Linked DNA regions of Homo sapiens. The protein of the gene in region 7 purifies or fractionates together with the protein of the main gene of each other region. This does not show direct contact. Each region holds a gene or a part of one and is shown on either strand. Other genes may lie near its edges. The genes, in order: INCENP, LSM14A, UBAP2L, FBXW11, ZC3H18, PPP1CB and NUAK1.

Region 1 (3,500 bases), on a different chromosome or scaffold from region 7:
TAAGCGCAACACTCCCCTGCGCATGGACCCCAAGGTGAGGGGCCTGTGCCCAGGCCGGGCTTTGTGGGAGCTGGGCAGTGTGGCTGAAGGTCCAGTCTGTCCTGTAAGATACTGGGAGTAGTGTGAGCCTGGGCGGAGGCAAGTGTGGCCTGGCACTGTTAGGGGCCGGTTGAAGCCTCTGTGGCCACCGGCTGTCTTGACCTCTGAGGGCACTGTCCTGCACTTGACCTTGTGGGCTCTGGACTACAGCCTGGAGGCTTGGCCGGCTCAATGTGAGCCCTGGGGATCTGTGTAGTTAAGGTGAGAGGTACTTGTGGACACCTCCACCACTGGGGTGAGGGTTGGGTGACAGGAGAGGCGGTGGGGGTGCTGCTGGCAGGAGGGCAGGCCCCACGCAGGCTTGCTGGCACAGCTGGGCATGTGGCCTGCCCGGCAGGATGCTCCCCGGCCTGGCATTAACTCTTGCCTTTTCCCTTGTCTCCTCCACAGTGCAGCTTCGTCGTAAGTAAAGCCTTTTCCTGTCGGTAACCTCGCCCCACCTAGCACTCACCCGCTGTAGCCCCTTCCCTGCGTAGCTGACAGCACCTGTAGATGCACTAACATTGTAAGCGGGAGGGGAGCCTTAGGAAGAGAGTGGGACGGTGAGGGGTGCACTGGCTGGAGGCGCCCAGCAGTTCTGGGCCCCAGCGTCCTTCTCTGCCCTCCCTGCCCTTGACTCTGCTCTTAGGAGGAAGCAAGGGGGTGTGGCTTTTCACCAGGGCTACAGCTTGATGTGTTCTCCACAGCCACCTTCCCTCCCTCCTCCCCTGCACCAGGCCCCGTCAGGGTCTGTGGGTCTTTGAAGAGAACAGACAGGTTGTCTGTGGTCCCCAGAGCTACTGAGATTTATTGGTTCACAGACCTGAGCAGTAGCCTTGAGGCAGTGGGGTGATGGGGGAGCGCAAGTGTGGGTCTGAACTGAGGTGGAAGTGCTGGGTCTTGCTGTGCTGGGTGACAGTAGAACAGTGGGTGGTAGCGTCTAGAAACAAGTCGCAGAAGCTGTTCTCTTCTCAGACACCTCAGAGCTGAGCCGAGCCAGGCAGGCCCTGAGCAAGGACCCTCAGATGGGGACATGCTTAGCCTGCAGCCCCAGCTCCCTGTGCCATTTGCCAAGGCCACAGACACCTCATTCCTTTAGTTCCTGCAAGCCTTCTGAAGGGTCCTCTGCAGCCACACAGGGACACCTGTGACAGCCGGGAGGGCTTCTGCCTCCAGTTGAGGGCCTCGGCAGGTGAGAGGGGCTTCCCAGCAGCTGGCCAGGTGGGCCCTGAGCTGGCTTCTCCGCATGGAGGCCTGTTCCCCTCTTGTTGGAGAGGGTGACTGACAGTATACCTTCCAGTGGCCTTACCACCTGTGCCGATTAGAGCCCTGCAGGTCTCACAGGGTGATAGAGAAGACCAGGAAGTGGTCCCCTTTCCTGCTTTGGGGATCCCAGGTCCCTGCACAAAGCATCTAGTGGGTGGGGACAGTCCATAGTTAGGAGACCAGGGGGCTACGGAGTCATTTTGGACTGCATCCTGAACATTCTGCTATGAGTCTCTGGGTCTTGTTTAAATCTATGGACAATGTTGATATTTTCTCAGCATTGCAATTTAGTAGCAATTGACCTGGTTAGGTTTAGGCTGCAGGTTCCCATCTGCCTTCTGTGGACTCTGGTTCCAATGTTAGTCCCGATTTTGAAGATGGCAGTGCTGTTTGGACTTTTCCCGGGTGTGTGCCAGTCAGCAGTCAGCCTGGGACTTGGCAGGTGGTCTGTTAGTTTAGTTCTCAGCCTTCGGTGTGGTAATTAGGATCAGATCCTAGCATCTGCAGCTTAGAGCTGAGCCTGGGCGTTCGTCAATAACCTGCAGCATCATTTTCCCGATCTCCTCTGGGGCTCCCTTTTCTGTCCTCCAGCCAGGAAGCTGGGGCTTCAGTTACCTTGTTCTGCTTTGTGTGCTTCTACGACTGTGTCCAGGGCCACCTGCCAGGGGGACAGGGAAAGAACAACACATAGGATTTGGCCACACTTTTGGGATCACAGCTCCTCCTCTGAGTTTTGACTTGGCAGCTTTCTCTGTCCAGGGTCGCCTGGCAGGGGGACAGACAGAAGAGCAACACACAGGGTTTGGCCCACACTTTTGGGATCACAGCTCCTCCCTCGAATTTTGACTTGGCAGCTTTTCTTCAACTGCTGCTGCCCCTGGTTGCCATAGGACTGCTTGTGGGCTGGGGCACAAGGCAAAGAAGAAAAGAGAACAAACAAAAATGGGATTTCTGCCTTCTCTGAGCATTAGATACTCCCTTTCTGCTGCTTGAGTCAGGACTAGAGGGCTTGTCCTGGAATTCTTTCTGTCCGTGCCCCAGTGACTCCTTTGGAGTTCCAGGCTGTGTTGAGTTAGGCTGGAGAAAAACAATGGAGAACTCACTGCTGGTTGGCTGGTGCTTCCAAGTCTGGTCTTCTTCCCTATCTGCCTGCTCCTCTTTAGTTTTCAGAGGCCTCAAGTAGCCGCTCCTTGCATTCTGTCCAGGTTTTGTAGCTGCATTCAGTGGGAGAGAGAGGTGGAGTATGTCCACTCCATCTTACCCGTTCCCGGGACCCCTTCTCTCCGTCTTTGGGAGGATGGTATTACCTTGGAGCCAGATTTCTAGGCGAGAGTGCTCCTCCAGTTAGGCTCAGAAGCCAAGGAGAAATCGATAGTAACCAGTACAGGAAGAGGGGGAAGCTATTGGACACTGTGCCTAAAGGTGGGAGTCTACTGGGAGCCAGGTTGGGGTGATGGGTGTGGGGCTTCCCTCTGGGTCCCAGCCTCCACCCAGCCCCAGACTGTTCAAGGGGAAAGCACTAGCCTTGTCCTTGGCCAGGGAGGGCTTAGAGCCCCTGCCCATCCCTGCTGGCTGCCCATTGCTGTGGCTGTGCCCCTGGGACTTTCTGTGTCTGCCCAGGAGGGGGTGCCAGCATCAATCAGCTTTTCAGCCAACTAGTACTTTTTTAAAGTTGCCTTAAAAATGAACATAGCCAGCTGGGTGTGGTAGCTCACACCTGTAATCCTAGCACTTTGGAAGGCCAAGGCAGGCGGATCCCTTGAGGTCAGGAGTTCAGCACCAGCCTGGCCAACATAGTGAAACCCCACCTCTACTAGAAATACAAAAATTAGCTGGGTGTGGTGGCACATGCCTGTAGCTCCAGCTACTCGCGAGGCTGAGGCACGAGAATTGCTTGAACCTGGGAGGTGGAGGGTGCAGTGAGCCGAGATCGCGCCATTGCACTCCAGCCTGGGTGACAGAGCAGACTCTGTCTCCACACAAAAAAAAAAAAAGAAAAAAAAGTGCATAGCCATGTCACAGGAAGTTTGGAAAATAAAAGAAAATTAATACCATCCCTAATCCATCTCACTAGACTGTTAGCATTTGTCAATATTTCCTTTTATTTTTTTCAACTATTATGAAATAGTTGATATACACAATAGAATATATGTATA
Region 2 (3,500 bases), on a different chromosome or scaffold from region 7:
AATCAAACCAAACCAAAAAACAAACAAACAACAACAAACCAGTGTGATCACATTTGTGAATTCCAGGAATAGAGAATTCTAAATAAAAGCTTCCAGAGAGAAAAGTGACTGAGAGTCAGACTGGCATCAGCAACCCCAGAATATTAGAAGAACAAAAAGCAGTAACTTCAAAGTTCCACAGAAAAAAGACTCTTAATTTGGAAATACATAGCCAACCAACCAGTCAAGCACAAGAAAACATAGGTTCACTAAGAAAATTTGTCACCTACATTTCCCATATATTTTATTTTTTAATTACAAAGATTCACTCAAGTAAAATTGGGAGGAGGAGAAAGAATCAACTGAGAGGTCAATATTGGAAACAAGAAACAGGAATCTGAGTATCTCTGAATAGACTAGTGAGAGATAATGGACCAGGGTAGTAGGGGTGGTCAGAGGTCAAATTCTGCATCTAGTTTGAAAGCAGAGCTGATAGGTTCGGATCACATGAGGTGAGACAGAGAGAGAGGAATTAAGGATGGCTCCAAGGTGTTTTGGTCTTACCAACTAGAATAGAGCTGTCATTTGATTAGATGGGGAAGGCTGATGGAGGAACAGGTTTGGAGCATGCTGAATTGAGATTCTAGCAGACTTCCCTACAAGTAGAGATGTTAAAGAGGCAATGGATATACAAGTCAGGAGTTCAGAGGAGAAATTCAGGCTAGAGATAGGAGTCAGTGATATACAGGTAGTATTTGAAACCAGGAACTAGATGGATGAGATCATCAAAAGAATGCAGATGATTAAATAAATGTTAACAGACAGAGAGAAAAGGGGAGATAACTGAGCCCTGGAGCTCTCCCAACATTTGGCGGCTTACAGGTTCAATCAGCCAAGGAGATTGAGAGGTAACCAGTGAGATATGAGGAAAAAAATGGCATACGATCAAGTTAAGAAAATGCTTCACAGAGAACAGACTAACTGTACCACGTAATGCTGACTGGTGAAGTAGAATGAGACTAAGAACTAACTACTGGATTTGGTAACATGGAAATCTTTGGTAATTTTGATAAGAAAACTTCATATGTAGGAATAAAAACCTTAGTAAACAGGGCTCAAAAATGAATGAACACCAGTGGTGTAGACAACTTCTTCAAGGGGTTTCGCTATAAAGGGAAGGATAGAAATGGGGTAATCATTAGAAAAGAGGAAATTCAGTTCAAGTACAGTGGGGTTTTTTGGTTGTTCTTAAGGTAGAAGAAATAACTGCCTATCTGTAAGCAGACAGAAAGATACGTTAGGGAAGGAAAAACTGAGGAGAGTAGAGAACTGCTGGAGCAATGTTCTTGAATCACCAAGAGGGGACAAATGCTGCACAAGTGGAAGGGTGGTCTTAGACAGAAATAAGAACAGTTTATCCATATTGATCAGAAAAAAACATAGAAGTCTGGGGAACAGATGCAGGTAACTGGGTATGTGAGGGGTAAGTTTATCAAAATTATCTTTCGTTTGCTGTTCTTTTCTCAGTTAACTGCTATAGAAAGCACGGTTAAGGGGCTGAAAGTGAATATGGGGGAGGTGTTGGAGGCTTGAGGAAAATGAATGGAATAGCCATGTAGAAAAGTGAAATGGATTATGGAAGTATAGTGTGACTGCTAGGAAGTGACCATGACTGCGGAGGCTAGCGAACATAAATTTAGAGTGAGGCTGGTCAGCACATCTGTGTTGATATAATCAGGGTTGTGATTTCTTGTATAAGACAGCAAGAGGGGAATGGGGTGGGGGCTGAGGGAATGTGTACTGACTGTCGTGGTTGCTCATGGAGTTGAAGCAGGATAAAGAAGGAAGTAAAGTTATGAGGGGAATGAGAGGACAGTGAAAGGCAGTAAGATGACAGTAGACTACAGTAGGTGTGAATGACTGACTGAGTTGGGCTACTAGAGAGACTGAGCACCTAGACAGAGAGGGAGATCGTGGTGGGAAATAACATGGGACAGCTATTCTCTATTAAGCACCAACATTAAACTAGTTACTTCTTTTATATCACCTCATTTAATTATCAGAATGACTCTGAAAGATGGGCATTATTATCCATCCCTATTGAAAAGATGAAGAAGTTAAAGCTAAGGTTAAATAACTTGTCCAAGACCAAAAAGCTGCTAAGTATTCCAACTGGCATTTTGGGTCGCATTTTCTTCCAGAAAAAAACAAACAAACAAAAAACCCTACAAAACTAGAATAAGGCCCTTGGGAATAAATTATTTTACAGACCAACTCACACTTTGTCCACTAAAAAACTTACTTCAAGCCAGACACTGTGGCTCACACCTGTAATCCCAGCACTTTGGGAGGCCAAGGCAGGCAGATCACTTGAGCCCAGGAGTTAGAGACCGACCTGGGCAGCATGGCAAAACCCTGTATCTACAAAAAACAGAAAATTAGCTGGGTGTGGTGGTGTGTGCCTGTGGTCCCAGCTACTTGGGAGGCTGAGGCAGGAGGATTACCTGAGCCCAGGGAGGTCAAGGCTGTGATCGTGCCACTGCACTCCAGCCTGGGCAACAGAGTGAGACTCTTGTCTCAAAACAACAACAACAAAATTTACTTCAATGGTATCTAGTTTTTAAAACAGCTAATTAATATATTATTTTATAGCATCATGAGAGAAAGACAAATTGTTTCTATAGCAAGCATCTTCTAGCACGGAATAATTAAATTCAAGTTAAACTATCTGTAGTTACTGCTATTATTACTGTGGCACTGAGTTAAATACAAAACTCCTGCTATGTATCATGCACAGATAAGATTTCTTTTTTCTTCCTACTTCCTTCCTTCTACTATTTTTTTTCTTCAGTTTTATGCTGTTTTCTTTACTTCCGACTTAGAAAATCATGGCTTACCTTACTTACCCCTACTAGAAAATGAACAGTTTCTGGCACCTGACTTCAGACTCCCAGAATTACCAAGTATTTCTGCGGACTATGTAACAATAATAAACTGTTTCCAAGGCTCCAAGTACTGGCAACATCACTAAATAGGGCAACAAAAAGAAACTGTGGCTTGAAGTTTCACTAGATCTTTGTCATTTTAGATAGTAATTTTGTGAATTGCTAGATTTAGATCCCCAAGTAATGCAAGAAATCAAATAAAGCACCCCGCAAGTATTTTATCCATCACACAAAGCTCTTCCACTCTCTCCAATAAGGTAATAGTTTATGACTATGTGACTAACATCAAGAAGTAGATAAATTATGCCAATGAGCCAGACTTAGCAGATGATTAAAGAAATCTGTTAACAATTTACTTGTTTTTCTATTCTTCCACCAATCTCTTGATTTTAAGAACAACTTATTTTAAAGGCAAGTGGCTTATATAATCGTTCTTCATAAAGTCTCTTTTCCCAGTGCAGTAGCAACCTGGTTTCCATTTGAATGATTATCCAGGTAAGCTAACTAAATGTAAGAATTTATTTTTTATAAGAATTTCATTCATTTTAGCCTATTTAGGCATCCTACTCACTTATA
Region 3 (2,696 bases), on a different chromosome or scaffold from region 7:
CAGAAGGCACAGTACACTTGAAGTCACATATTCAGGTCTCAGTCTCAGCTCTGCTCTTATTTAAGAACTGTGTGAACCTGGGCATACTACTCAATCTCTTAGCCTCAGTTTCCTCAGATATAAAACAGGGATGCTACAAACCTGTTGTAAAGACCAAATAGGCTGGGCATGGTGGCTCACATCTGTAATCCCAGCACTTTGGGAGGCCAAGATGGGTGGATCACACAAGGTCAGGAGTTTAAGACCAGTCTGGCCAATATGGTGAAACCCCGTCTCTACTAAAAATACAAAAATTAGCCGGGCATGGTGGCGGGCGCCTGTAATCCAGCTACTTGGGAGTCTGAGGCAGGAGAATCACTTGAACCTGGGAGGTGGAGGTTGCAGTGAGTCAAGACTGTGCCACTGCACTCCAGCCTGGGAGACAGAGGGAGACTCCATCTCAAGAAAAAAAAGAAAAAAAAAGGCTGGGCGCAGTGGCCCATGCCTGTAATCCCAGCATTTTGGGAGGCCAATGCAGGCGGATCACCTGAGGTCAGGAGTTTGAGACCAGCCTGACAAACATGAAGAAACCCCGTCTCTACTAAAAACACAAAATTACCCGGGCATGGTGGCACATGCCTGTAATCCCAGCTACTTGGGAGGCTGAGGCAGGAGAATCGCTTGAACCCGAGAGGCGGAGGTTATGGTGAGCCCAGATCGCACCATTACACTCCAGCCTGGGCAACAAGAATGAAACTCCGTCTCAAAAAAAAAAAAAAAAAAAAAAAAAAGACCAAATAAGAGGATGGAATGTGGAAGCACTTTGTAAAACTGAATGTCATATGTGAACATCATGAAATCCGAACTTAGAACTCCAGGCTGGGCATGATGGCTCACATCTGTAATCCCAGCACTTTTGGGAGGCTAAGGCGGGTGGATTGCTTGAGCCCAGGAGTTCGAGACGAGCCTGGGCAACATGGCAAAACCCTGTATCTACCAAAAAACAAAAATACAAAATACAAAACAAACAAAAAACAAAAATACAAAAATTAGGCAGGCCTGGTGGTGTACACCTATAGCCCCAGCTACTCAGAAGGCTGAGATTCCACCACTGCACTCCAGCCTGGGTGACTTCTTGAGACTGTCTCCAAAAAAAAAAAAAAAGGCAAACCAATAGTGTCCCTACCCCTTCCAATATTCCTTACAAAAATAGTAACTCCGCTGGGTGCAGTGGCTCACGCCTGTAATCTAGCACTTTGGGAGGCCAAGGTGGGCAGATCATGATGTCAGGAGTTCGAGACCAGCCTAGCCAAGATGGTGAAACCCCGTCTCTACTAAAAAATACAAAAATTAGCAGGCGCGGTGGTGGGCACCTGTAATCCCAGCTACTCAGGAGGCTGAGGCAGGAGAACCGCTTAAACCCAGGAGGCAGAGTTTGCAGTGAGCCGAGATCACACCACTGCACTCTAGCCTGGGTGACAAGGCAAGACTCCATCTCAAAAAAAAAAAAAAAAAAAAAACTCGTTGGATATTTCAAAAGAAATAAACACATACTGAGATATTTGAAGTGCTGAAGGTCTTGTGCATGAAGTGCCCCCCCAGACCCCCAGTGCTTTATAGCAAACTTTAAGTATTTATGGTGATGGGGGATAAAAGCAACATAACAAACCTGTGGATCACTCAAATGCTTCATTAGTTACTAGGTCGTCTCCTTTCCCACTCCCACTGTTATAGATTTACTCAAAGAATGGAATGAACTAGTTTCCTGTCACTCTCATACTTATTCTCTTGAAAAGTTATGAAAAAGGTTGGGAGTAGGTAGGAAAAGGGGCCAGGAGAGTTGCACAGTAAATTACATGACACGATAAACAATTTGCCACGCTTTACCTTCCTATTACGTTTCTCGTTTTTTTTCTCAGAGGGCTAAATTTTAACTTCTTAGAGGAAGTGAAGTCTAGAGAAGACCTTTCATTTAGAAAAAGTAGGATGGGTTTCCTGCCACCTCTCCTAGGGTTCTTCTTGTCCACTGTTATTTCTACCATTGCAACTCCACCTCCTCTATGTCTATCTCTTTTCCACTTTTATCCAGAGCCAGGCACCTACCTGGGTTTTGGAGTACACAGAACCCGAGATATCTGGCACGCCCGTGTTACTGGAGGTGACTGAAACACCTGGGGGAGGAGGAAACAGACAGGAGGATTAGCTCAGCTAGCTACCTGGCCCTTATTCCTGAGATGAGGTGATATCTGTAGCCTTTCTAGCTATACCAATGCAAGGGAATTTTGGTCGGTTTTCCAGCTTCAAGTTAGTCCTGAGAGGTAAGAGTTCATGAAACAAAAGCTCCCTAAGGGTTCTTTGGCCCTTCCCAGGTACGTGTTGAGTATACGTGAGAGAGAGTGAGGTAAGTTGTTTTTTGGTGGGCAAGGGGATATGACCAAACCTCACTAGCATACACTGTTTTCAAAACACTTCTGTGCCAAAGTCTAGCAGGAATATAATAAACTTTTAATTTTAATGTCCATTTCAAATCAATCCACCCAAATGCCACTCAGTTTTATTCCTGGAGACTGGGGCAGTCTGGCCCTCTCTCTTCCTGAAGTGACATTTCTGGGCTCAAAATCCATGCCTCCACTGCATAAGTACTAGAGGAGCAGTCCACTTTAATCCCCAAGGGCACTCTCATTCTCAGAGCCTCAGCTCAATTAGTCCAGCTTCTT
Region 4 (3,500 bases), on a different chromosome or scaffold from region 7:
TGGGCACAAGTCCCTTATCAGATACATGATTTGCAAATATTTTCTCCCTTTCTGTGAGTTGTCTTTTCACTTTTTTGATGGTGTCCTTTGATGCACAAATGATTTTAATTTTGATGATGTTCAATTTATCAAGACTTGTATAGTTTCAGTGCTTATGTGTAGGTCCTTGATCCATTTTGAGTTAAATTTTTGTTTAAGGTATGAGGTAGGGGTCCAGTGCCATTCTTTTACTTGTGGAGATCTATTTATCTATCCCATTCAGCTACAAATGCAGCTGGTAAGATAATTCAGGGCACTCTGGTTGCTGTGTGTCTCCTTATTTGTCTAATAATATGTTTAGCTGTCTATGAACATCTAAGTCAGATACCACAAAAGAGGGGATTATTTATTCTGCATACATACAATTAGAAGTAATGTGTCAAAACAAATGGAGCTGTTCCAGAAAATATGCTGGAAAAGAGGATGATATGAAAGGTGAGACTTTTTGTTTGTTTTTTGAGACAAAGTCTTGCTTTGTCACCCAGGCTGGAGTGCAGTGGCACAGACACAGCTCACTGCAGCCTCAACCTGCTGGGCTCAAATGATCCTTTCACCTCAGCTCCCTGAGTAGCTGGGACCACAGGTGCATGCTGCCATGCCCAGCTAATTTTATTTTTTGTAGAGATGGGGTTTCACTATTTTGCCCAGGCTGGTCTCGAACTCTTTAGCTCAAGCAATTCTCCTGTCTCAGCCTCCCAAAGTGCTAGGATTAGGTGTGAGCTACCGTACCCAGCTGGAAGCTTTTTTATTACATTAGCTCCATGGGGTTTGAAATGTCAGCTGGTGTAAAAACATAAAATCTGGCCCAAACTCTTTCCTCCAGGTAAATGAGCGTTTGAACCATTCAGGAGATGTTCTCTTTGTAAAGATCTCAAAGACTGGAGACTTCACTTCCCTCCGTGTTTCATTCCAGTGTTATTACTCAGCAGCCAAGAAAATTTTATGCTGTCTAGTCTGCCCCCCAGCCTCCCAACTTTGAGTTAGAGGACACCGTATTTTATAATCACATATTTGGGTCATTATCAGAAGCTCTGTCTTTTTAAGAAAGGTATATTGTGAGAGGACTTTCCTGTGTTCATTCTTTAAAATACTGTTAATTTGTTATACAGGTCTGGAGCACGAGCACCTGTGAATTTGTTCGTACTCTCAATGGGCACAAGCGGGGCATTGCCTGTCTCCAGTACAGGGATCGCCTGGTTGTTAGTGGATCATCAGATAATACCATTAGGTGGGTAGAAGTTGGTGTGCTGACAGAGCAGGCTGATTTTTGCCACATTGTTGACTCATCTCCTAGTTCTAATGCTCAAAACAACTCAGGGTAAATGGGATGTTTCAGATAAGAAAGCTTTAGGTAACTTTTAGAAATGTATTTGGGCTCTGTATACTCAAGTGGGAAAACCGTGTGTGCCCTGGGTGTTCTTCCAAGATTCCCCCAGTACACAAAGTTTTTTAACCTCAGCTCCACCTGGGATCACTTAATACCAGAGCACTTCAGAACAGGCTAGGGTGCTGCAGTGCAGCCCAGCTCGCTCCAATTTCCCTCACCTGTGAGCTCCCACCTCCCTACCTAACACATGGGAGTGTACTTTATTTTCCTCTCCCAAGACTGCATCTGTTCCTGCCAGGTCATTTACCTCTCTTTTTCCTTCCCAGCACTCGGCCTCCCTGCTTTCTAATAAATCTGACTAACCTTAGACATTTTGTATCTTACTAAGAACATCCCTTCAATATCTACTTCATTATCCCATGCCATTTCCCCACTGTCTCAACACACTCTAGTGGCATTACATAAGTGACTAAACTTAACTTTGGTTTATAATCAAATTGACTAATGTTTGGTCAAAATAAAGATAGGATTCAAGATTATTAAAAAAAGTTTTTTGTTTTTTAAAGGCAGGCAAGCAAACACATGCTAGTAGCTTTACATAAGTGACTAAACTTTGGCGTTTATAATTGCCTAATGTTTGGTCAAAATAAAGATTGGGTTTAAGATTATTAAAACTTTTTTTTAAGGCAAGCAAATAACAAAAAAGCTATTTAAGTTTGCTTTATCACTTTAGGCTTCAAGATACCATAAATTTAGTTTAGAGCTTAAATCTTGATTCTCTTATATTCATCATGCTTTGTGGTATTGCTTAATGTTTCATCAATAAACAGTTCTTAACTTCCTCATTGGAATTGTCAAGGTTTTACAAGATAGTAATGTGTATTACTCTCCAGCTTATAGAAGGGAACTACTTTGGAGTCATAGTGGCAGTACTGAATGGCTTTGATCACAGATTAGAGATGCTATCATCACGGGTACTAAGAAGATTTGCTAAGGGCAGCTGTAATAAAATACATTCTTTGGATGTATCATAGGAATTACTGGTAGAGAGGCTAAGAAAAAGTTATAGAATTAATTTGCTCACTTTATTTTGTACATGCTAACTAGCTATGATTTTTTTCTACAAATACTGTAGAAAATCAGTCATAATAGGAAAAAAGATCTCTAACTCCAGAATTGTTACATAAATCATATGCAGAGAAAAAGACTTGGTGTTGTCAATGGGTTTATATTTCCACCAGAACACTGCGTGTACCTAGTAAGTCTCCCACTCTGACTTTGTAAACCGTCAATCCCAGTATTCAGCATATAGTATCAAGGAAGGGGTATCCCCAAGCCTCATCAAGAGACAGCCACCTCCCCTGCTGGTCCGCCAGTTCTAACCTCAGTGGTCCTTATGGACTCCACTGTGCTAGAAGTGCCTGGGGCGGAAGCTTAACCCCCTGGCTGTACGTGATATCTCCTTTCCCACCTTGTCTCATCTGTGCTCTTTCTCCTTTACTGCCTACAATCCCTGTCTCCCCAGAAGAGTCTTTCCTACACCATTTGTCTACATGGTTTTTATCAACTCAGACATCAAGAGAATGCCTAAGGATTAAATAGAATTGAAGTTTCTTGTTTGTTGATTTTATTTAAATAGTAATACAGACGCATGATTAAAAACAGTTTCAAATCATATAAAAGGAAATAGAATAAAAAGTAAGGCTTCTTCCTAGGTTAGTGCTTGGAAACACACAGATGGTATAAATGTACACATACAGCTTTATATGTGTGGTGTGTACTGGAAGTGAGATAGAAATAAAGAGCTCCAAGATAGTGAAAAATTGTATCTGTATGGAACAGATATAAAAAACTTACGGATAGTGTGAATCGTGTGTGGGAATTTGTTTCACAGAGGTCTGTTTTTCATTCAAGGCTCTGGGATATTGAATGTGGTGCCTGTTTAAGAGTCCTAGAGGGACATGAAGAATTGGTCCGATGCATCCGGTTTGATAACAAGAGGATTGTCAGTGGGGCCTATGATGGGTATGTCTTTCAGATTTTCAGATGTACTGCTATAACTGTATCAAGAAGAAAGAGAAATGTTATATATTAAGCAACTCTGTATGTACCAGGTCCTATGGTAGGTTTCTGT
Region 5 (3,500 bases), on a different chromosome or scaffold from region 7:
CCAGGTTCAAGCGATTCTCCTGCCTCAGCCTCCCAAGTAGCTGGGATTACAGACGCACGCCACTACGCCCAACTAATTTTTTGTATTTTTAGTAGAAACAGGGTTTCACCATGTTAGCCAGGCTGGTCTCAAACTCCTGACCTCAGATGATCTGCCCACCTTGGCCTCCCAAAGTGCTGGGATTACAGGCATGAGCTACCGCGCCCGGCCTAATTTTTGTATTTTTAGTAGAGACAGGGTTTTACCAGGTTGGCCAGGCCGGTCTGGAACTCCTGACCTCAAGTGATCTGCCGGCCTCAGCCTCCCAAAGTGCTGGGATTATAGGCGTGAGCCACCACGCCCGGTCCTGTTATTTTTAAACAAATATTTAAAACCTTTTCTTCGTTTTAGTTTTCAACACCCTAAATACCGACAGGCATCATCTGCAAGTCAGATGTTCTCTGGACCCTCCTCCTACTTGTTAAGAGCAATGGGGTCTCAGACCCAGCTGCTCCGCATCCCCAGGCTCCCGTCCCTCTGCCCTGCCCCCTAGGGGCTGGGAGGCTCACCTCGGTCTGGGGATGTGTTGGGCCGCTTGGCTGGAGGAGGGCTCTGCCTGTCCTTGTCTGATGGTTCATAGCGCTTCCTGCTTCCTTTATCAGCCGCCTGGGACAAGAGAGAGGCCAGTGAGGACAGCAGGGCCAGGAGCCAGAAGCCGTGTCCTCGCCCCAGAGGACATGGGTTCCTTGCCAGCAACCTGCTCTGCTCCCAAAGGTCCCACCACACACCCATGAGACCCCGTAGCCCTGAGTGAGGCCTCCAGGACCCGGACCAAGGGCACCCCCACTGTGCACTTGGGGCCCTTCACGTTCCAGGGGAAGCACCCTGCAGGCCTTCCTGCTCCCCACGGGGGCCACTCTAGGAGGACCTGGGACCCATGAAGCCAGGCCTCTTGCCCTTCCAGCAGAGGACAGGGATGTGTCCTGCTGAGGACAGAGGACAGGGACGGAGGCTTCCTGTATTGTGTTGAGACTGCATGGCAGGGAATGGCGGCCACAGGCACGAAGAGAACGCCCTCTCTGTTCAGAGAGAGGCCAGCAGCACCCAAACCTCCCCAGATGCTCACACTTCCCAGCCCAGGCCGGAAAGATGGAGTCTCGCTTTGTTACCCAGGCTGTGCTGACACCTGCAAGGCCCCACTCGCCCTCACTCAGGCTCCGTCCCCCAGGAGGAAGCTGTCTCAGGAAGCAGATGGACCCAGGCCTAGACGCTGGGGCAGCCACCAGGAGGGCCCTTGCCCTCACCTTATTCAACAGTGTCAACTTGATCTCCTTGTGGGCCACAAATGTGCCCTGCTGGGGCTGCCCGGGGGGTGCCTGCTGGGGTGTCGAGGGCTGCTGGGAGGACTTCCCCCCTGCTGGAGGTTTTGCAGATTTGGGTGGTTGTGTGGACGAATCCCTTTTCCGCTTTTCCTCTTTAACACCGTCTTCTTTCTTAGATTTTCCTACCAATGATAAATCCGCAGTCATGGGGGTACTGGTGATTTTCCCATGGCCACACCAACAGCCAGGCAAAGTCTGTGCTGATGCCGCCCTCCTCCCCCGGGAGCTGCTCCCCAAAGGTACCAGGGCTCCTGAGTACCTTTCTCCTTCCTGGTCTGGGCTGGGGCCGGGGACCGAGAGCTGGCTGAGGACACGGGGCTAGCCAGGTCTGCGTACATGTCCTCCGAGTCCACGCTGTGTGCAGAGCTGCTGCTCGACGTAGCACTGGACACTGAGGAGACGCTGCTCACGCTCAGGGACCTGGACACACAAGCACATCTCACCACACCCCAGCCAGACTGGAGGGAGGGGCCAGCAGGGGGTGCTCCATGGTCCACTTTTACGCAGTGTCCATTTATGGATCATGTACCCACGGAATGTGTGATTTTGGGGGGACACTGGGCAGTTTCAGGGTTACAAAGTAAGGGACGTCCCCATGGCTAGGCCAGGGCCCCATTTCACTAATCAATGTCAGGTTGCAGCCAGGCACGGCTGCTCACGCCTGTAATCCCAGCACTCTGGGAGACTGAGATGGGCAGATCTCGTCACGAGCAATGGGGTCTGAGACCCAGCTGAACTGATGTCAGGAGTTCGGGACCAGCTTGGCCAACATGGTAAAACCCCATCTCTACTAAAAATACAAAAATTAGCCGGGCGTGGTCGCAGGCGCCTGTAATCCCAGCTACTGGGGAGGCTGAGGCAAAAAAATCGCTTGAACCCGGGAGGTGGAGGTTGCAGTGAGCCGAGACCATGCCATCGCACTCCAGCCTGGGCGACAAGAGTGAAACTCCGTCTCAAAACAAACAAAAAACAAAACGAATGTCAGGTTGCTTTTTGGGAAGGGAAACAGGACTGAGCTGACTCAACAGCGGCAAGGATGGAATTTAAGCAGAGTCCCTGGCTTAGACAAAAGGGAGATAGCCTCAGCCCACAGGGAAATTAAAAACACAAGGAGCAATTCCGCAGTCTCAGGGAATGCCTGAGGAACACACGGCAGACAGACTGGAAACAGCAGGTCTGTAGCTTCACTGGCGTGCACTCAACACGGACACAAAGCACACAGGACTGGCACCTGAGTCTGCCCTGCCCATATGCTGCTCGAGAAAACACCAACCACGTCTTCCAGGTACATTGGGTACCGGAGCAAGGAACGGGGGAATGTAAGAGAACCATTTTTTTTTTTCAAAAGTCAGGTCTTTAAAACATTTCAGACTTATTAAGAAACATTTAGGCCAGGCGCGGTGGCTCATGCCTATAATCCCACGAGTTTGGGAGACCACGGTGGGAGGATCACTTGAGCCCAGGAGTTTGAGACCAGCCTGGGCAACACAGCAAGACCATGTCTCTCCAGAAACAAAACAAACAAAAGAAACAAAGAACTGTGACAAATATATAAACGACCTGCTGCCTGGAAATGAAAGAGTTCTATGCAAGGAATCTAAGGACTGATTTAATACTTTCTTTTAAAACAACTAAATAGCAAAAATCCTTTTTTTTTGTTTTGAGACAGGATCTCTGTTGTCCAGGCTGGAATGCAATGTCGTGATCACAGCTCATTCAACCTTGACCTCCCAAGTAGCTGGGATCATAGGCACACACCACTATACCCAGCTAATTAAAAAAAATTTCTGGGCTGGGTGCAGTGGCTCACACCTGTAATCCCAGCACTTTGGGAAGCCGAGGCGGATGGATCACCTGAGGTCAGGAGTTCAAGATCAGAAACGTGGTAAAACCCAGTCTCTACTAAAAATACAAAATTAGGCTGCGTGCGGCGGCTCACGCATGTAATCCCAGCACTTTGGGAGGCCAAGGTGGGTGGAATGCCTGAGCTCAGGAGTTTGAGACCAACCTGGGCAACATGGTGAAACCCCATCTCTACTAAAATACAGAAAATTAGCTGGGCGTGGCAGTGTGCGCCTGTAGTCTCAGCTACTCAGGGGGCTGAGGTTGAATCCGGGAGGCGGAGGTAGCGAGATCGCG
Region 6 (3,500 bases), on a different chromosome or scaffold from region 7:
AAGCATACAACAGTGTTAAATCACTTTTCACCATTTTATCCTACCTAGAAATACCTTTCCCTCTCAGCACCAACACTGATATGTCAAACCAGATTATAAACGCTGAATAATGGGAATAGTAAAGAAACTGTTATACGTACTTACATACAAGAATAGTGGTTATATGCAATAAACAGAAAGTGGAGGAAACAGTATCTGTCACATACTTACAAGAAAGCCTTCTCAAAATTAGTATGGGGAAGTTCCAGGACTCAGTGGCACAAAGAGCTCTCTGTTAGTATTTCCTAGCTCAGGTTTGTACTAAGCAATAATGACGGCTAACATTTTCTGACCTTTAATGTGTCAAGAATTGTTTGAAGGCACTTACTATCATATATGCAGAAGAAACTGGGGCTGAAATACACCCAGAATCTGTGTCGTTAATCATTATATAAGATGGCATCCCAATGTATCAATACTTATTAATATTTGAGTAAACACTTAACTGAGTAAACATCTGATTATCATTCAGGATTCACATAATTCTAGTAGTTGGGAGTCCGAAATTCACAAAAGCTATTCCTTTCTGTCATCTAAAATCAGACCTCACTCTTTCTCACTGACAGGTTTGCAAGTTTCTCCCCCTCAGAAGTCTGGTCTCGGCCGGGCGCGGTGGCTCACCCCAGTAATCCCAGCAATTTGGGAGGCCAAGGTGGGCAAATCACAAGGTCAGGTGTTCGAGATTTAGTGAAATCCCATCTCTACTACTAAAAATACAGAAAATTAGCTGGGCATGGTGGCAGGCGCCTGTAATCCCAGCTACTCAGGAGGCTGAGGCAGGAGAATCGCTAGAACCCAGGAGGCGGAGGCTGCAGTGAGCCGAGACTGCACCACTGCACTCCAGCCTGGACAACAGTGTGAGACTCCATCTCGGAAAAAAGAAAAGGTCTGGTCTTTTTGTCTCGCTAGTTTGGCTCAAGTATTTGATAGTAATTTAAATAAAACGCTCAATTCAAACCACATTGAGGAAACATACAAGTACCTATAAAGATTCCTTCTTAATTTACTATTTAAAGTTTTAAAATACGTGATTACAACTGCTAGATATGACATTAGTGAAAGCTATGTAACACCCAATATACCTAACCTTTTATTATGAAAACTTAGATTTTGATTTCTCCAAATCTTGAGAATGAGAGGTAGGACTAGGGGGAAGGTTAAAATGGTGTCAGACAAGTCCAGTTATGCATCATTTACCAAAGGGAAACTTCCTGAGAGATGCACAGTGAGGTGATTTTGTTGTTGTGCAAACATCACAGAGTGGACTTACACAAACCTAGATGGTATAGTCTATTGCTCTTAGGCTACAAAGCATGATGCACAGTATGTTACTGTACTGAATACTGCAGGCTACTGTAACACAATGTGCTTGTATATCTAAACATATCTAAACACAGAAAAGGCACAATGTATATACAGTAATAAAGATAAAAATATTTTTCTTTCTTCAAGAATAAATTAACCTTTGCTTACTTAACATTTTTTACTTTAGAAACTTAAAAAAATTTTTAAACATTTTGAATTTTCTAGTAACGATTAGCTTAAAACAAAAGCATATCATACAGCTGTACAATATTTTCTTTATATCCTTATCCTATTAAGCCTTTTCCTATTTTTAAAAATATTTTTCACTTTTTAAACTTTTGTTAAAAACTAAGCCATATACACACACATTAGCCTAGGCCTACAGAGTCAGGATCATCAGTAACACTATATTCCGCCTCCACATCTTCACTGGAAGGTCTTCAGGGGCAGTAACATGCATGGAGCCATCACCTCCCAGGATAACGAAGCTTTTTTTCCTGGAATGCCACCTGAAGGACATGCCTGAGTCGGTTTTAACTAGTTTTTTAAAATAAGAATATATTCCAGGGCCCTGCGTAGTGACTCAAGCCTGTAATCCCAACACTTTGGGAGGCCGAGGCAGGCGGATCACCTGAGGTCGGGAGATCAATACCATCCTGGCTAACACGGTGAAACCCCGTCTCTACTAAAAATACAAAAAATTAGCCAGGTGTGGTGGTGCACGCCTATAATCCCAGCTACTCAGGAGGCTGAGGCAGGAGAATCACTTGAACCTGAGAGGCAGAGGTTGTGGTGAACTGAGATCGCGTCACTGCACTCCAGCCTGGGCAACAAGAGCGAAACTCTGTCTCAAAAAAAAGAAAAAAAAAAGGTAAATATATAACATAGCTGTTTATTACCATTATCAAGTATTATGTACTCTATATAATTGTGTTATACTTTTTTTTTTTTTTTTTTTTTTTTTTGGAGATGCAGTCTCACTCTTTCGCCCAGGCTGGAGAGCAGTGGTGCAATCTTTGCTCACTGCAACCTCCACCTCCCAGGTTCAAGTGATTCTCCTGCCTCAGCCTCCTGAGTAACTGGGATTACAGGCATATGCATGCCACCAAGCCCAGCTAATTTTTGTATTTTTAGTAGAGATGGGGTTTCACCATGTTGGCCAGGCTGGTCTCGAACTCCTGACCTCAAGTGGTCCACCTGCCTTGGCCTCCCAAAGTGCTGGGACTACAGGCATGAGCCACCACGCGTGGCCTGTTGTACTTTTACACAACTGGCAGTGCAATAGGTTTACACCAGCACTACCACAAACAAGAGTAATGCATTGCACTATGACATTATGCCTATGATGTCACTAAGTGACAGGAATTTCTCAGTTCCATTCTAATCTTACAGGACCACTAACTACCTTACATGAAGTCCACTGTTGACCAAAACATCATTTGACAGAACATATGACTATACTCAAACCAAGAAAGTGTTTTGGTCACCTTGCAACTGACCAGATGGGAACTTCTGTTACTTAGGGATATTCTGATTAACATTCTTAGAATAAAATTCCTTTATGGTGAAATATGCTATGTTAAAACCTCCCAATTATGCAAGGGTGGGCATGCATCAAAAAGCAAACGCTATTCCCTCTGGGATATGCACATATCATCAATATCTCCACTTGTCTTTGCACAGATGCAGGTAAATTTGGCAAGGGAGGGTTCTGAGGCCAGTGATGTTCACGAAGGTTATACATACTCTCACAAATCACTGTGCTCCACATGTGAATAGTGCAGAGGCAGAATAAAGGACAACTGCCCCCGCCCTTTTTCCTACTGTATGACAAGTACCCATCTAGACCAAGGACTGACTTCCTCTATCAAATCAGGAAAAAACTGGCTACTGGTTATTTATACTTGAATAAGCCTTGAAATGGCTATTTAAAGCTGCTAGAAGCAGTGGCTGCTGCCTAAGGGTATCAATCTGTATCCAATCACAAATCCTAGAAGACTCCACTGGGAATCCCCATCTACCACACCACTGCTAAACCTACTGACATTTACAAACTATTTCTTCCCCTTGCCTCCCTATATGCCACCAACATTCGAGAATAACCTTTCAGAAATACATAACAGAATTTAAGTCAGTATTTCTAAGAATCTTAACAT
Region 7 (3,500 bases):
GACAAGATACCTTGACTCAAACCCTTATCTCCTGCTGCTTCCCAGGAGGAAGCAAGATCAACACACACTGGCATGGTGTGGGGGCATTTTTGTCTGCAGGCAGGGAAGTGAACCAGCTTACCCCTCAAAGCCCCCTAGGGACTCCAGGGTCTGAGGCTGCTTGGGAAACAAAGGACTCTGTATGTGTCCAGGTGAAGAGCTCCCTGACCTGATTCATTACAACAAACTCCTCGAGGTCCAACAAACAGACCAACAAACAGATGGCTCACCAGAAGCAGGCACATCTCTTCTCCCTAACTTGGCTCTGATTCTTATCTTCCCAACCTCAACTCTTGCAAAAACTCCCTGCTCCAAGCCAGCACACCAAACTGACGGGCTCAACACCCCACTGTGATCAGAACCCAGCTCAGACCCCTCTAGAGGAAGAGTTAAGGTCAAGGTCTCTGCATTCACATTGCCTGGGTCCAAACCTGGCTCTGCTGCTGCCTGTGACCTTGAGCAAGCTAGTTAACCTCTCTGTGAGTCAGGTTCTTCATCTAGAAAATGGGATGATAGCAGAATTGTTATAAGGATTAAATCAGTTAACATGCACCTAGCATGTTATAAGCACTCAAGAAGTATTAGTTGCTATTATTTGCATTAGCATCAATTATTATTATTACCCCCATCTTACCTTACCAATCCTGCCCTCCCATTGTGTCCCAGCACAAACCCTGCATTCCAAGCCACCTGGAATATTCACCTTCCCCCAAACACAAGTGAATGAATGCCTTGGAATGCCCCACATTCCAATCCTCTGAAACCCAAATCAAGGGTCATTTTCAACAGCACTTGTCCTCCCATTAGCTGGAGAACACTTTCTAATCCCACAGTATACCCTGGCCCCTCCTCTAGATACCCTTCCGGAAGGGTGGGCGATCACCCCATGGCTGCTCTTCTGGCACCATTAGCAAAGAACCACACCCAAATCCAGAGGTCACCAGCTGTGCAACATTAAGGAAGGTTCTCAATTCCTCTAGCAGCATTGGGTTTCCAAACAAACTCCATCCAAACAAACAAACACCATCCAGCTGTCTGACCCTTGGCAAGTTACCTAACCTCCCTATGTGTCATTTTCCCCATCTGTAAAATGGGTCTCACTATTTTACACCTCACAGGGTTGCTGTGAAAGTTAAGTGAGGGAAAATGTCTCTAAAGCACTTAGCACAGTGGGATGCACCACAAGCTCTCAAAAATATCAGCTGGTAGTAAATAATGGTAGCAGTAGAAATATGATTCTGTCCAGGATCAAACTCACTTTCATGAGCTAAGCTTCAATGAACTGTTGTCCAACTTGAAAATCACCTGAAACAATCCTCTATGGAAGAGTTACTCATGCCTAGTAACTACTTCTGCCTTCTCTTTCACCAGGCTGGAAGCTCCCTGGGTCTTACTCATTTCTATGTCTCAGCATTTAACATGGTGAGTAGCACATGGCAGATGGCAATAAATCTTCATCGAACTGAACAGAATTAGTTTGCAAGTACATTTCACCTTTGCTACTAGATTATAAGTTCTTTAAGAGTGAGGCCCATGTCTTTCTCTAGTAAAGATTTATTAAATGAGTGATGGAAAAATACCAAACCAAGAATCGGGTTTCTAAGATCCAGCTCCGTCATTCAAGACCTGTGCAACCTCAACAAAGTCACTTAACACTTCTGCGCCTTACTGGTCCCACCTCGAAGATGACAAGTTTGAACCACATGTTTGCCATGGTCCCTTACACTCTAAAACTGTATTTGGGCCTTAGCTGCAACATGGCACTTCTGCCACCGTGCATGTGACGTCAACACACCTCCTGGCTTGGCAGGCCAGTTTGCTAATTTGCCTCCCTGATTTGCAGTTTTCCAGCAGGAGGCTATGAATAGCTTTGGGTGCTTAAAACACCCATTTTTGGTCAAAACACTTGGCTTGCTAGGTGAGGATGCCCCATCACCCAAGCTAATGCTCTAGTGGCCAGGGGCACCAGGGCAGACTGTGGGGGAGGGGCACACATTGCCCACCAGTCCTGCCACTCCCATCCCAGACTCCCCCCCAGGGACCCTGCCTCCAGCTCACACCACACCACCTACTGCTCACTAGAGATAACCTGGTACAGTGAGGAAGTTGAACTTGGCCCCTTGACATCGAGGTGATCACAGGACATAAAATTGTGTGGCTTTGGTTTTGGGATTTTTGGCAACGCTTTGTGTGGCCTGTAGGTCCAGGGAGCTTAGCTCAAAGAAAATGCATGCCGAATTATGACACAGAGGCTCACCCAGTAGGCCTGCCCAAAACTGTATCAAAACCAAAGTTGTGCAATAAACAAGGCCCAAATTCAAGACTTGAGAAATGTGTTCAGATCCTATCTGAATCTGGCTAATTATCTCATCTTCCTATGGACACACCTCCCTAATTAATTTGGTATTTATTTTATTACTCTGAAAAGTTGATTATTTCTTCTATCTCTCTCTGCATGATACAATGCATTGTCTCTCTGATGGTCTTAAAATCTAATGAAATCCTAAAATGAGATGAGAAAAAAAATCTGCTAAAAGGAGGAACTAAATTGATTAATGTCCCCTTTTGAGGTTTTATATAGATCACTGTATTCAGTTCTCACAAGTCTATGAAGTTGGTACTCTTAGTAGCTCATTTTACCGATGAAGAAGCTGAGGTTTCAAAAAGTCACATAGCTTGCCAAAAGACACAAAGCTAGTAGGGGATAGATCAAGGATTTGAATGTAAGCCAGGGCTCTTTGCCTTTCTGCAAGAGTGCCTCATTTTTGAGCTTGTTCATCTCTGGAACAAGCCACTCTGAGTCCTGGTCTCACGGACATGCTTTAGCAGAGGCTGCAAGACTGCAGGAGAGTGCCTGGACGACACACAGGGTCGCACCAGCTGACTCCAAGCATCTCATTCTGCACTTCTCTTCAGAACTGCCTTTCGCGGCACATAGAAAATGATGCTGTGTTGTGTTTTGTTTTATTCAGAAGGTCCTTCCAGGTATGCAATTAAAAACCATCACATCCTCATTTTTTAGAAACTTCTCTCCTCTCTGAGAAGAACCCCTGCTTTCAACAGGGATGTTGATTTCACAGCATTTCATACAACCCCATACTCGGCACCTGTCTTGGGCCACTCACATTAGTAAAACACGTTAGAACCACTGCTCCTCTTGAGAGATGCTGTAAAAGGCACTGGTGCAAATGAAAATAAAACATCACTTCAAAATTCTACCCAAAGATCAAAAGGCTAAATTAAGATAGTGCCCTTTCAGTTCTCCTCAACTGCACCTTCAAAGCATGTTGTGAATGTTTAGCACATCGCTGGTACCAGAAGAAAACTCCAAGTTCATATTTTAGATGAAAATGTCTTACTGCTCTTAACAGGTTCTGAGTCACCAGGCACTGTATGGGCAAGAACAACTCGTTGACCAATTTTTTGTTTGTTTGGTGTTATTTTCTGTTCAGCCAGTCACA

The links.
Region 1: the proteins of NUAK1 (region 7) and INCENP purify together in Homo sapiens (affinity purification with mass spectrometry, with the first as the bait; one large-scale study listed by BioGRID). This does not show direct contact.
Region 2: the proteins of NUAK1 (region 7) and LSM14A purify together in Homo sapiens (affinity purification with mass spectrometry; one large-scale study listed by BioGRID and IntAct). This does not show direct contact.
Region 3: the proteins of NUAK1 (region 7) and UBAP2L purify together in Homo sapiens (affinity purification with mass spectrometry; one large-scale study listed by BioGRID and IntAct). This does not show direct contact.
Region 4: the proteins of NUAK1 (region 7) and FBXW11 purify together in Homo sapiens (affinity purification with mass spectrometry; 5 studies listed by BioGRID and IntAct, with this or other methods). This does not show direct contact.
Region 5: the proteins of NUAK1 (region 7) and ZC3H18 purify together in Homo sapiens (affinity purification with mass spectrometry; one large-scale study listed by BioGRID and IntAct). This does not show direct contact.
Region 6: the proteins of NUAK1 (region 7) and PPP1CB purify together in Homo sapiens (affinity purification with mass spectrometry; 2 studies listed by BioGRID and IntAct, with this or other methods). This does not show direct contact.

The regions. Positions count from the first base shown.
Region 1 is NC_000011.10:62,141,011-62,144,510, forward strand, and holds part of INCENP (inner centromere protein), read left to right. Parts: coding exon 1-34; intron 35-489; coding exon 490-501; intron 502-3,500. UniProt on the Homo sapiens protein: Component of the chromosomal passenger complex (CPC), a complex that acts as a key regulator of mitosis.
Region 2 is NC_000019.10:34,179,004-34,182,503, reverse strand, and holds part of LSM14A (protein LSM14 homolog A), read right to left. Parts: intron 1-3,500. UniProt on the Homo sapiens protein: Essential for formation of P-bodies, cytoplasmic structures that provide storage sites for translationally inactive mRNAs and protect them from degradation. Acts as a repressor of mRNA translation. May play a role in mitotic spindle assembly.
Region 3 is NC_000001.11:154,265,955-154,268,650, reverse strand, and holds part of UBAP2L (ubiquitin-associated protein 2-like), read right to left. Parts: intron 2,151-2,696; coding exon 2,083-2,150; intron 1-2,082. UniProt on the Homo sapiens protein: Recruits the ubiquitination machinery to RNA polymerase II for polyubiquitination, removal and degradation, when the transcription-coupled nucleotide excision repair (TC-NER) machinery fails to resolve DNA damage.
Region 4 is NC_000005.10:171,870,639-171,874,138, reverse strand, and holds part of FBXW11 (F-box/WD repeat-containing protein 11), read left to right. Parts: intron 1-1,148; coding exon 1,149-1,267; intron 1,268-3,280; coding exon 3,281-3,391; intron 3,392-3,500.
Region 5 is NC_000016.10:88,625,903-88,629,402, reverse strand, and holds part of ZC3H18 (zinc finger CCCH domain-containing protein 18), read right to left. Parts: intron 1,782-3,500; coding exon 1,621-1,781; intron 1,484-1,620; coding exon 1,284-1,483; intron 646-1,283; coding exon 549-645; intron 1-548.
Region 6 is NC_000002.12:28,758,330-28,761,829, reverse strand, and holds part of PPP1CB (serine/threonine-protein phosphatase PP1-beta catalytic subunit), read right to left. Parts: intron 1-3,500. UniProt on the Homo sapiens protein: Protein phosphatase that associates with over 200 regulatory proteins to form highly specific holoenzymes which dephosphorylate hundreds of biological targets.
Region 7 is NC_000012.12:106,132,455-106,135,954, forward strand, and holds part of NUAK1 (NUAK family SNF1-like kinase 1), read right to left. Parts: intron 1-3,500. UniProt on the Homo sapiens protein: Serine/threonine-protein kinase involved in various processes such as cell adhesion, regulation of cell ploidy and senescence, cell proliferation and tumor progression. Phosphorylates ATM, CASP6, LATS1, PPP1R12A and p53/TP53.